Linked DNA regions of Homo sapiens. The protein of the gene in region 2 interacts with the protein of the main gene of each other region in a biochemical or structural test. Each region holds a gene or a part of one and is shown on either strand. Other genes may lie near its edges. The genes, in order: ESR2, STAT5A and ABL1.

What was found.
Region 1: the proteins of STAT5A (region 2) and ESR2 form a complex in vitro, tested with the Homo sapiens proteins (one study listed by BioGRID).
Region 3: of the proteins of STAT5A (region 2) and ABL1, one has a biochemical effect on the other in vitro, tested with the Homo sapiens proteins (one study listed by IntAct).

The regions. Positions count from the first base shown.
Region 1 is NC_000014.9:64,287,823-64,291,470, forward strand, and holds part of ESR2 (estrogen receptor beta), read right to left. Parts: intron 1-3,648.
Region 2 is NC_000017.11:42,298,366-42,302,013, reverse strand, and holds part of STAT5A (signal transducer and activator of transcription 5A), read right to left. Parts: intron 2,264-3,648; coding exon 2,133-2,263; intron 1,885-2,132; coding exon 1,733-1,884; intron 1,300-1,732; coding exon 1,144-1,299; intron 740-1,143; coding exon 560-739; intron 1-559. UniProt on the Homo sapiens protein: Carries out a dual function: signal transduction and activation of transcription. Mediates cellular responses to the cytokine KITLG/SCF and other growth factors. Mediates cellular responses to ERBB4.
Region 3 is NC_000009.12:130,873,227-130,876,874, reverse strand, and holds part of ABL1 (tyrosine-protein kinase ABL1), read right to left. Parts: intron 2,008-3,648; coding exon 1,823-2,007; intron 1-1,822. UniProt on the Homo sapiens protein: Non-receptor tyrosine-protein kinase that plays a role in many key processes linked to cell growth and survival such as cytoskeleton remodeling in response to extracellular stimuli, cell motility and adhesion, receptor endocytosis, autophagy, DNA damage response and apoptosis.

The DNA.
Region 1 (3,648 bases), on a different chromosome or scaffold from region 2:
TTAACATTGTAGGGCAGAGTTTTCCCAACACATCGATTGAATGTTCAAACATGGCCTCAGTACAATGTTCTGGTACAACAGGAAAAAATTGTCTCTAAAGAGTTTAATTGTTGGGCCTGGCATGGAATTTCACCTGGCCAACCAAAGAACCAGTACCCAGACATCCTGATTCTAAGAATTATTCATTTATTTGCATGTCAATTTTCTTTAGTCACCATAACCTAAAATAGTTGGTCCATATCCTGGGTGGTGAACAGGCTTTGTTTTCTGTCCAGAGACCTCTCTCTCTCTCCCAGCACACACCCCTGTATTTGGCCCTCTCAGGTCACATCTGAATTCAGCCAGAAAGCTTTTTGTACACATGGGATCGTGCATGGTGTTCTAATGTACTGGCTGGGAAACATACTATGGCTTTTGAATTAAAAGAAAAAAGTAGTATTTAAAATTCCCAATTTTGACAATGATTCATGGACAAGAAAAAGTTTGGCCCTAGAAATGGCAGAAAAACACTCCAAAAAGACTACACTTTTTTTTTTTTTTTTTTGAGATGGAGTCTTGCTCTGTTGCCCAGGCTGGAGTGCAGTGGTGCAATCTTGGCTCACTGCAAGCTCCACCTCCCGGGTTCAGCCATTCTCCTGCCTCAGCCTCTCAAGTAGCTGGGACTACAGGTGCCCGCCACCATGCCCAGCTAATTTTTTCTATTTTTTAGTAGAGACGGGGTTTCACCATGTTAGCCAGGATGGTCTTGATCTCTTGACCTCGTGACCCGCCCGCCTTGGGCTCCCAAAGTGCTGGGATTACAGGCATGAGCCACCGTGCCAGCCAAGACTAGACTGGTTTTTATCAAAGCACCTGTAAATCTAGTTAATAAGAAATCAGTCACCCGGGCGCGGGTGGCTCATGCCTGTAATCCCAGCACTTTGAGAGGCCAAGGTGGGCAGATCACCTGAAATCAGGAGTTCGGGACCAGCCTGGCCAACATGGAGAAACCCAGTCTCTACTAAAAATACAAAATTAGCCGGGTGTGGCAGCGCTTGCCTGTAAACCCAGCTACTCAGAAGGCTGAGGCAGGAGAATCGCTTGAACCCAGGAGGTGGAGGTTGCGGTGAGCCGAGATCACGCCACTGCACTCCAACCTAGGTGACAAGAGCAAAACTCTGTCTCAAAAAAAAAAAAAAAAAAAAGGTCAGCCACCATCAAGCCTGTTCTTATGTATATTCTATCAATGGATAGAGCAGAACATTCATTCTAGCCCCAGCTCTGCCTGAAAGCCAGGCAATCTTAGACAAATCCACAAACTCCCTGAGCTGCCACATCTTCTTCAGTAGAATCAGGTACCTATTTGGTGCTGTACCTTTTCACGGTGCTCTGAGGGTGAAATGAGATGATGTCTGTGAAAGGATTCTGAGGCCGGGCGCAGTGGCTCACGCCTGTAACCCCAGCACTTTGGGAGGCCAAGGTGGGCAGATCACCTGAGGTCGGGAGTTTGAGACCAGCCTAACCAACATGGAGAAACCCCGTCTCTACTAAAAATACAAAATTAGCCGGGCATGGTGGCACATGCCTGTAATCCCAGCTACTCGGGAGGATGAGGCAGGACAATCGCTTGAACCTGGGAGGTGGAGGTTGCAGTGAGCTGAGATTGTGCCATTACACTCCAGCCTGGGCAACAAGAGCAAAACTTCATTTCAAAAAAAATAAAGAAAAAGAAAAAGAAAAAAAAAAAGAAAGCATTCTGTAAGGTATTATTACACATCCAAGAAGATGAAGCCAGTCTATTGGTATATCACTGGATACACATTTAGTGTTGGTTGGAATTTCCAGACAAGTTACAATGTCTTTATGGCCACCCTGAAGATTTTTGCCTCCTAATTTTACTTTTTGACTTCTGTCCACAGAAATCCATCACCCCTAGTCCAGATAGCTGGGCTGCTGGTAGCCTGCCAACACTGTGTGTGTGGACAAAATGCCACATATTCCTGATGCCATATTCTCAAGCTTGCAGACTAGGAGGATAAGTCTAGGAGGATAAGAATAGAGGATAAGTCCTCATCCCTATTCTTCTTCCACCTGCCCATCACACTTTCCCAAGCATTCAGTTCAAATGCTCCACATTTGTGTGTCCTGCAGAAGTAAAAAATTCACGCTCACAAAGCAGCAACTAGAAGGAATTTCATGGAAAAGATTTAAAAAGATTTCTTAAGCAACAAGCATCCTTGATGTGCATAAGTAGCTGTTTGACAATTATTAGCTTTTTTGGGGGGTGGGGGTTATACTCTAGCTCTGTAACTCAGGCTAGAGTGTAGTGGCAAGATCATGGCCTACTGCAGCCTTGATCTCCTGGGCTCAAGGGATCCTCCAAACTCAGCCCCCCAAGTAGCTGGGACTAAAGGCATGCACCATCATGCCCAGCTGATTTTTAAATTTTTGTAGAGATAGGGTCTCACTGTGTTGCCCAGATTGATCTTGAACTCCTTGCCTCAAGCAATCCTCCCACCTCGGCCTCCCAAAGTGCTGTGATCACAGGCATGAACCACCACACCTGGCCAATTATTATCTTTAAATGTATTCTTATTTATTTATTTATTTATTTATTTAGAGATAGAGTTTTGCTTTGTTGCCCAGGCTGGAATGCAGTGGCATGATCGCGGCTCACTGTAAACTCGGCCTCCCAGGTTCAAGCAATTCTCATGCCTCAGCCTCCTGAGTAGCTGGGACTACAGGCTTGAGCCACCATGGCCAGCTAATTTTTTGTATTCTTAACAGAGACAAGGTTTCATTATTTGGCCAGGCTGGTCTTGAACTCCTGCCCTCAAGTGATCCAGCCACCTAGGCCTCCCAAAGTGCTGAGATTACAGGCGTGAGCCACCACACCCAGCCTTTTTAAATATATTCTTTCAAAACAAAATATTAAGGCCCTCAATTAATTTAATATTAGGAAGATAAAACACTCCAAAATCACCAGAGAACTCATCATTAATAACTGATTTGCATGTAATTCTTAAGAACATGTACATAAGGAAACCCTGTTTCCTTCTAAAATGAGGAAAAGCTAATTCTCCTAGTAACCAATTGGCGCTTATTTAGTTGGATAGGAAAGAGTTTCAAGGGTTTGAATAGGGTAGGAGGACCAAGCCTCGAAGGCAGGGGTGGGAGAGAGTTCATCAGTCTTCTCAAGTGTCTTCTCTCTCAACAGCAAGTTTCTGCTCTTCCCTAACACCAACAACAGCCACAGACCATGCTCTGTAGGAACTGGACCAAATTCAAATATTCATTTGGGACAGGGTCAGAGAGAATTCCGAGTGAAGGGATTCAAGATGACACAGCCAATCCAGAAGTTAGGCTGAATGCACTCAACTCCCCTTCCAGGCCTGGGTTTGACAGTAGAACACACAACAATTTACTAACAAAATGCTGCAGTCTGGCTTTGAGGAAACATATACAAGTCCAGCAATCTATCTTTCTAGGTCACCCTAACTCTCCTGCCCTCTCTCAAGTACACCCACACAAAGATTCTCCACTAAAAGCCCTTCATTTTCAAGACCTGTCATAATTCCAGCTAGGAAGGCCAACTATCCAGTTTGCTAGCTCCTCATAAACTTGCCACTCTGCATATCCTAGTTACTACCACTGTAACTGGGTATGCAA
Region 2 (3,648 bases):
TTTAAAACTTTTTGTAGCGATGAGGGTCTCCCTATATTGTCCAACTCAAACTTTTGGGCTCAAGTGATCCTCCGACCGTGGCCTCCCAAAGTGCTGGGATTACAGGGGTAAGCCACGGCATCTAGCCTAGCACCAAGCTTGTTGCAGGGACAGGGAAGGCATCTGAGTAGGAGGAAGGCAGTGTACCATCTGTCCCAGATTTAATGATGGTTTGACATGATTGTTTGAATTTACAATGGTGTGAAGCAATACACTTTCAGGAGAAAGTGGTGTGATAGTCTCTCACAATGCTGGGCAGTGGCAGTGAGCCTCAGCTCTCCGGCAGCCACACCATCCCCAGGGTAAAGAACGGATACTCGGCTGGGTGTGGTGGCTCACGCCTATCAACTCAGCACTTTGGGAGGCTGAGGTGGGAAGACTGCATGAGTCCAGGAGTTCGAGACCAGCCTGGGCAACACGGTGAACTAGGGGACAAGACATAGCTGGATGCAAGGACAAAGCGGGGGGTGCAGGTCCCCCACACCTAAGCTTGGGCAGGGGAAGGGAGAGGCACAATTACTTGCGGGTGTTCTCATTTTTAAGCAGAGACTTGGCCTGCTGCTCACTGATGATGGTGGCCTTCACCTGGGGGGGATTCATGTGCACGTTCAGCTTCCCGCCCACCAGCAGGCGTACGGTGGCTGCAAACTTGGTCTGGGTCTTCAGGACCTGAGGAGGCTGCTTCTCAATGATGAATGTGCTGCATGGGACACAGGGACAGACACACGATGAGGGGTTGGCGCAGGGGAAAGGGCTCTCAGTCCCTCTGTGGTGGGGGTGGGGCTGCCTCCCATGGGGCTCAGGAGGTGATGAGCTCGGGCACAACCTCTGTTCCCGGGGAAGCTGTGAGAGTCCAGGGAGAGGATGGAGAGGGGAGTGAGATAACACAGCAGCTGGCATGGGCTGCGGCCCAGGGTATCTCTTGCAGTGTCCACAGGAGAAACTGGGCAAGGGCGGCACCTAGCAGCCACAGCAACTGGAGATGGAGTTGGGAGGGATGAGAGGCAGGAAGTGGATCTGCTGGTCTGGAAGGCACCTGCAGCTCCCCCCACGCAGGCAGGAGCTGCCCCAAGCTCCTGGGCATGGCAAACAGGCAGCAGTCACCTGGTCACCAGGGCTGAGATAATGTCCGTGATGGTGGCGTTGACCTCGGCCAGCATCTCCTCCACTGGGCCGGGGATGGGCAGCTGCTGGCAGAGGTGCTCAGCCCTGCGGATCTGCTGCCGGTTCTGCCAGATGATCTCGGCCAACTTCTCACACCTGCACGAGAGCCCCAAGGCCAACAGGAGGACAATGGCTTCTCCTCACAGACGCCAGGCCCCAAGACACAGCTCCCGTTCCCCCAGGAAGGCTCTGTGCTTTCGCCACACTTCCCACCCATGGGAAGAGCAGAGCTCCCTGCCTCCCAGAATTAGAGACGTACACAGGAGGGGCGACCCTGACTAGGCCCAAACAGCCCAAGCATCACCCCACACACCCGAGCCCCATCCCACCCCCAGGACAGCAGCCCCCTTCCTGGGGGAGGTGCACAGGATGGGGACCAAAGTCTGATTGAGGAACCAGGCTCCCTGGAGAAACAAGAGCTGTCCCAGGATGGAGGGGGCCTGCTGCAGGAGCCAGCACAGGACGCAGAAGCAGCCGGGGTCCCCACCAGCCCCTCCTGCCCTGCCCGCTGGCCGCCCCACACCATTACCAGGACTGTAGCACGTCCAGGCTGCCCTCGGGGGGCCCGCCGTTCCCGGCCAGCTGCTGCCGCCGCTTCCACTGGATCAGCTCGTCATCCAGGATGATGGTCTGCTGCTTCCGCAGCAGCTGCAGGGTCTTCTGGTGCTTCTCGGCCAGCTCCTGAGGGAAGGGAGGAGAGCAGCCCCTTCTGGGCTCCCAGAGAACACCGCAGGGCCTCGCTGGGAAATGGCAGGGCAGGGCCCAGGCCGTTCCCTCTCCCCAAGCTGCTCTGCCTCGCAAGGCCCCCAGGAAAAAAGGCCTCCTGCCCTCCCAGGTTCTGCTCTCATGCTGGTCCCAGCCCTCCCTCGGGTCCCCAGAGACTGACTTCATGGCACCCACGCCCAGGAGAGGCCCAGGACCCCACTCACCACGCGGTACTGCTGCAGTGTCTGTGCCTCACGCTGCAACCAGGCCTCCAGAGACACCTGCTTCTGCTGGAGGGCCGTCTCCCGGCTCAGACGCTCCTGGGGGCTCAGCTGGGCCAGCTGGGCAAACTGAGCTAGAGGAGAGAAGAGGAAACCATGACCATCACCTCCTAGTGTCCAACAGGAGGCCTAGAGAAGCCCACTCACCTGTTCTGGAGCGAGACCCTCCCAGGCTCAGACACTGCATCAAGAGCAAGTCGGGGTTCCTGACAGCCAGGGGGGCCAAGATGAATGGCGCCTCAGGAGGCGCCTCTGGGCCCTGCTCACCAGCCTCCTGACTCTGAGCCGTCCCCTCTGGGGGCACACGGGTGCTGGGGCAGCTGGGGAGGAGGCCTGCCTGCCTCCTGCCCGCCTGCCTCACAGGGCTGCCAGCCCTCTTCTCGCGTCCCAGCATGGGTCCAGGCTGTCTGGGGTGTAAGTGTGCCCATGCCCTTGACTGCAGGTGAACCTGGGCAAATCGCTTTCCTTTCCTGTGCCTCAGCTTCCCCACGTGTAAAACGGGAGATTCTCAGCACCTGCCTCAGTGGGGTGCTTGAAGATTAAATACATGAGGACATGGAAGATGCCAGAAAGCTGCCTGACATGGGTGAGCTCTGTGTGAGGTTCGTGCTTCTTGGTTAACGGGGAACAGGACAGAGAGAAGAGGTGACAGAGACAAGCAGCTGCTCGGCCCCATCCCTCCCGCAGCAAGGCCTCTTCAGGGAACCCCAGCCCCGGCGGCTCTGTCTCGTCCCTGAGCACAGCAGTCCCTCCTCAGGGGAGGATGAGATTCTTGAGGGGCTGGAAGGGGCCCAGCATGTTTGTCCAGGTGGGCTCACTGTGAGCCCAGCCGACCAACCAGGGGAGACAGACAGATAGACAGACCGCAGAGGGAGAGCGTGTCCAGGGCCACTGGGGATGCAGAGCCACCAAGATTCTCTCAGGAAAGGGAGGCCGAAGGGAGGCGGCTTCCCTCCACACCATCTGTGAGGAGTCTCATTGATGGCGGGACAGGGAATAAGTCAGGCCTCACTAGCTTTTAAAAAGTATCCATCATGGGGCTGGGCGCAGTGGCTCACGCCTGTAATCCCAGCACTTTGGGAGACTGAGGCGGGCAGATCACGAGGTCAGGTGATCGAGACCATCCTGGCTAGAGACCATCCTGGCTAACACAGTGAAACCCCATCTCTACTAAAAACACAAAAAATTAGCCGGGCATGGTGGCGGGTGCCTGTAGTTCCAGCTACTAGGGAGGCTGAGGCAGGAGAATGGCGTGAACCCAGAAGGTGGAGCTTGCAGTGAGCCGAGATTGGGCCACTGCACTCCAGCCTGGGCGACAGAGCTAGACTCTGTCTAAAAAAAAAAAAAAAAAAGTATCCATCATGTGCCAGGCTCGGTGGCTTACGCCTGTAATCCCAGCACTTTGGGAGGCTGAGACAGGCAGATCACTTGAGGTCAAGAGTTCGAGACCAGCCTGGCC
Region 3 (3,648 bases), on a different chromosome or scaffold from region 2:
GTCTCAGCTACTCGGGAGGCTGAGGCAGGAGAATGACGTGAACCCGGAAGGCGGAGCTTGCAGTGAGCTGAGATCATGCCACTGCACTCCAGCCTGGGCGACAGAGTGAGACTGTCTCAAAAAAAAAAAAAAAAAAAAAAAGAAACCAACTTGTGGCAGGGCATGGTGGCTCACGCCTGTAATCCCAGCACTTTGGGAGGCCAAGGCAGGTGGACTGCCTGAGCTCAGAAGTTCAAGGCCAGCCTGGGCAACATGGTGAAACCCCATCTTTACTAAAAATACAAAAAAATTTAGCCAGGCGTGGTGGCAGGCACCTGTAATCCCAGCTACTTGGGAGGCTGAGGCAGAAGAATTGCTTGAATCTGGTAGGCGGAGGTTGCAGTGAGCCGAGATCATGCTACTGAACTCCAGCCTGTACTTTGTACCCCAGAAAAAGCAAGACTCTGGCTCCAAAAAAAAAAAAGAAAAAGTAATTTGTTATTTTAAAAACTGGTAAATAAAAACAAAGAAGCAAGAATTGACCCTGCTCTTCCTACATGAACTGTACCACTGAGTAACCACACAGATGAGGAACTGTTTCTCCTCATACAAGTTTCCACTAGTAACTTAACAGGAATGACAGAATTAGAGAATTCCTACCTGGCAATACCTAGCAAACTATTGGATCTAGGCACTGTATATCAGTAACTGCCAAAAATTACTCAAAAAAAAACCCCCACAAAAAAACGATAGCAAATCAAGCATTTTGGGGCCAGGCGTGGTGGCTCACGCCTGTAATCCCAGCACTTTGGGAGGCCGAGGTGGGTGGATCACGAAGTCAGGAGTTGGAGACCATCCTGGCCAACATGGTAAAACCCCGTCTCTACTAAAAATACAAAAATTAGCCGGGGGTGGTGGCATGCGCCTATAATCCCAGCTACTCAGGAGGCTGAGGCAGGAGAATCGCTTGAAACCAGAAGGCAGAGGTTGCAGTGAGCCAAGATCGTGCCACTGCACTCCAGCCTGGGCAACAAGAGCGAAACTCCGTCGGAAGGAGAAGGAGAAGAGAGGAGGGGAGGGAGAGGGGAGGAAAGGAAGGAAGGAAATAAATGAAGCATTTTGTATCTACTGATGGAAGGGCACACCATCTCCCCTGATCCACTCTTACTAAAAGAGAAACAGTCAAACCTGAATGTGATGAGGCCGTTCCAGATCCAGCCACCCATTACTAGGAATACTGAAGTCAGAGGAACATATTAAATCACACCATGGGAGACAATGAGCAAAACCCAGAACGTACGAAACTCTAAGGATGGTTTCTTCAATAAACAGCAAGGGAAATAAAGACATGGAGAGGGGGCTTATAGAGGAGACTTAACAGATCAGCAGATACACTGTGCACCATATTTGGACCTCAGGCCAAATACACAGTTAAAAAAAAAAAAAAAAGGGTGGCTGTGCACAGTGGCTCACACCTGTAATCCCAGCACTTTGGGAGGCCAAGGCAGGCAGATCACCTGAGGTCAGGAGTTCTAGACCAGCCTGGCCAACATGGTGAAACCCCATCTCTACTAAAAATACCAAAAATTAGCTGGGTGTGGTGGCGGGTGCCTATAATCCCAGCTACTCAAGATGCTGAGACAGGAGAATCGCTTGAACCCGGGAGGGAGAGGCTGCAATGAGCCAAGATTGCACCACTGCACTCCAGCCTGGGTGACAGAGTGAGACTCCGTCTCAAAAAAACAAAAAGAAAGGAAGAAAAGAAAGGGAAGAGCAAGAAAGAGGCAGAAAAAAACCCTCCTGTAGTCAGGAAGGACCACTTCAGTGCAGCAGCAGCCCTTACCCCAGACGTCGGACTTGATGGAGAACTTGTTGTAGGCCAGGCTCTCGGGTGCAGTCCATTTGATGGGGAACTTGGCTCCAGCATGGGCTGTGTAGGTGTCCCCTGTCATCAACCTGCTCAGGCCAAAATCAGCTACCTTCACCAAGTGGTTCTCCCCTACCAGGCAGTTTCGGGCAGCAAGATCTCTAAGAAAGGAAAATGTTCACCCATGAGAGCTCCTGGCCAACCTTCCACTTCACAAATCCACCACTGCTGAGCAAAGGTGCAATGCTGACAATGGAAAGATTGAGTCCAATGCCCTGGAAGTTTGTATTAATGCCCACGGCAATTAACACAGTGCCAGCCTCTCAGCAAACACACCCTGAGATCCCAACATGGGGAGAGGCTGGTGCTGGGAGCGGGCTCCCTGGCCTCATGACCTGGAGCAAGTTAATTACCCTGGGACTCAGTTACCTCATCCGTAAAATGAAGACGATAATAATGGCACCTACCTCTTAGGGTTGCTGTGAGTGTAATTAATTAATATGCTAAGTGCTTTGATTGAAGTGTCGAGAATAGTAAGTGCAGTTATTGCTACTCTATGCCAGGCACGGAGACAAACACTGAGCCCAGTCCTTGATTGCAAGAAACTTCTATCAGAGTGCATCTCCACTTGTCCTATTCAGACTTGATGGGACAAAATAAAACAAAGCCCATGGCATTCTTTACCCAAACTGTGTTTCCTACTTCCCTCTTTCTTCCTGAGGTGTACCCAAATGTATCCTAAAAAACTCTCTCCTGTATAATCTGCTTCCTCTCACTTCCTGATTCTCCCAGGGAGGTAGGAGTCTAATCTTTGGTTCATGAACATTAACCATGAAATCACAAGGCAAACGGGAAGAGCGGAATGAGAGGGGGCAGCAGCTTGAGGTGATGGCTGCGTGAGATAGCCTGATCGTCAGCAACAAGAGTGAAATTAAATACAGAAGAGTTGTGCCTAAGAGGATTTTGATAAAGCATTTTAAGTTCGCTTGAATGAAGAAGGAACGGACCCGGCCGTGCCAGGCAAACCAGAAGTCAAGCAATCTCAATTTGCAGCATCAGAGGATTCACTTTCCTGAAAGCCAGGAGTATCTGGATCAGGCTCTCATGGAGCATAGAAAATCTGTCTTACAAGGAGCCGCCAGCATTTCACACATGCTACCCTTATTCCTTGCTATGAAATCTCATGTAGAGGTTTCATACTTGAGCTAATTGGGTAGGAAAGGTCACAGTGGTGGTGTGGAGAACATCTCGTATAAAAGACGCCAGCAAAGCCCATCAGGCTCTGTCCTGCACAGGCCGTCGCTTTGCTGGGAAGCCATTTCCACCAGCAAAGAATTTGAAGACCAAGATAATTGTGGCACATTTGAAGGTCAAAACACTTCAGGGTTTAAAACAGCAAAGACACTTAATTTAGACCTCCACATACACAATTCTGACAATTGTGGAAACATCCCTGAATCAGAGGACAGCAAGTTAAGTGGAGAATGAAAAGATAATAAAGAGAAAGCAGGAAAAAAAGACACACACACTAAAAAACAAAAGCCATGTACTGGTTGTTCCCATGAGTTTGCGTAAAAGCAATGCCAGCGGCTCCCAGGAAGAGGCCATTACTGCTGGGCGCTGGCCCCGGAGGAACAATGAGTACTCTCTTTCAGAGGGGACTGTGATTATTAGGAAGGACGCCTTTTATGAACTTCATTTAATATTCCACTTAGCCCAAAATGGTTCAAAAATGAAATATTCCTTACTCCGGGGATTAGCTGCTCCACTGGTCCAGAGTCTAGGCCTGGCTGAATTTAGCC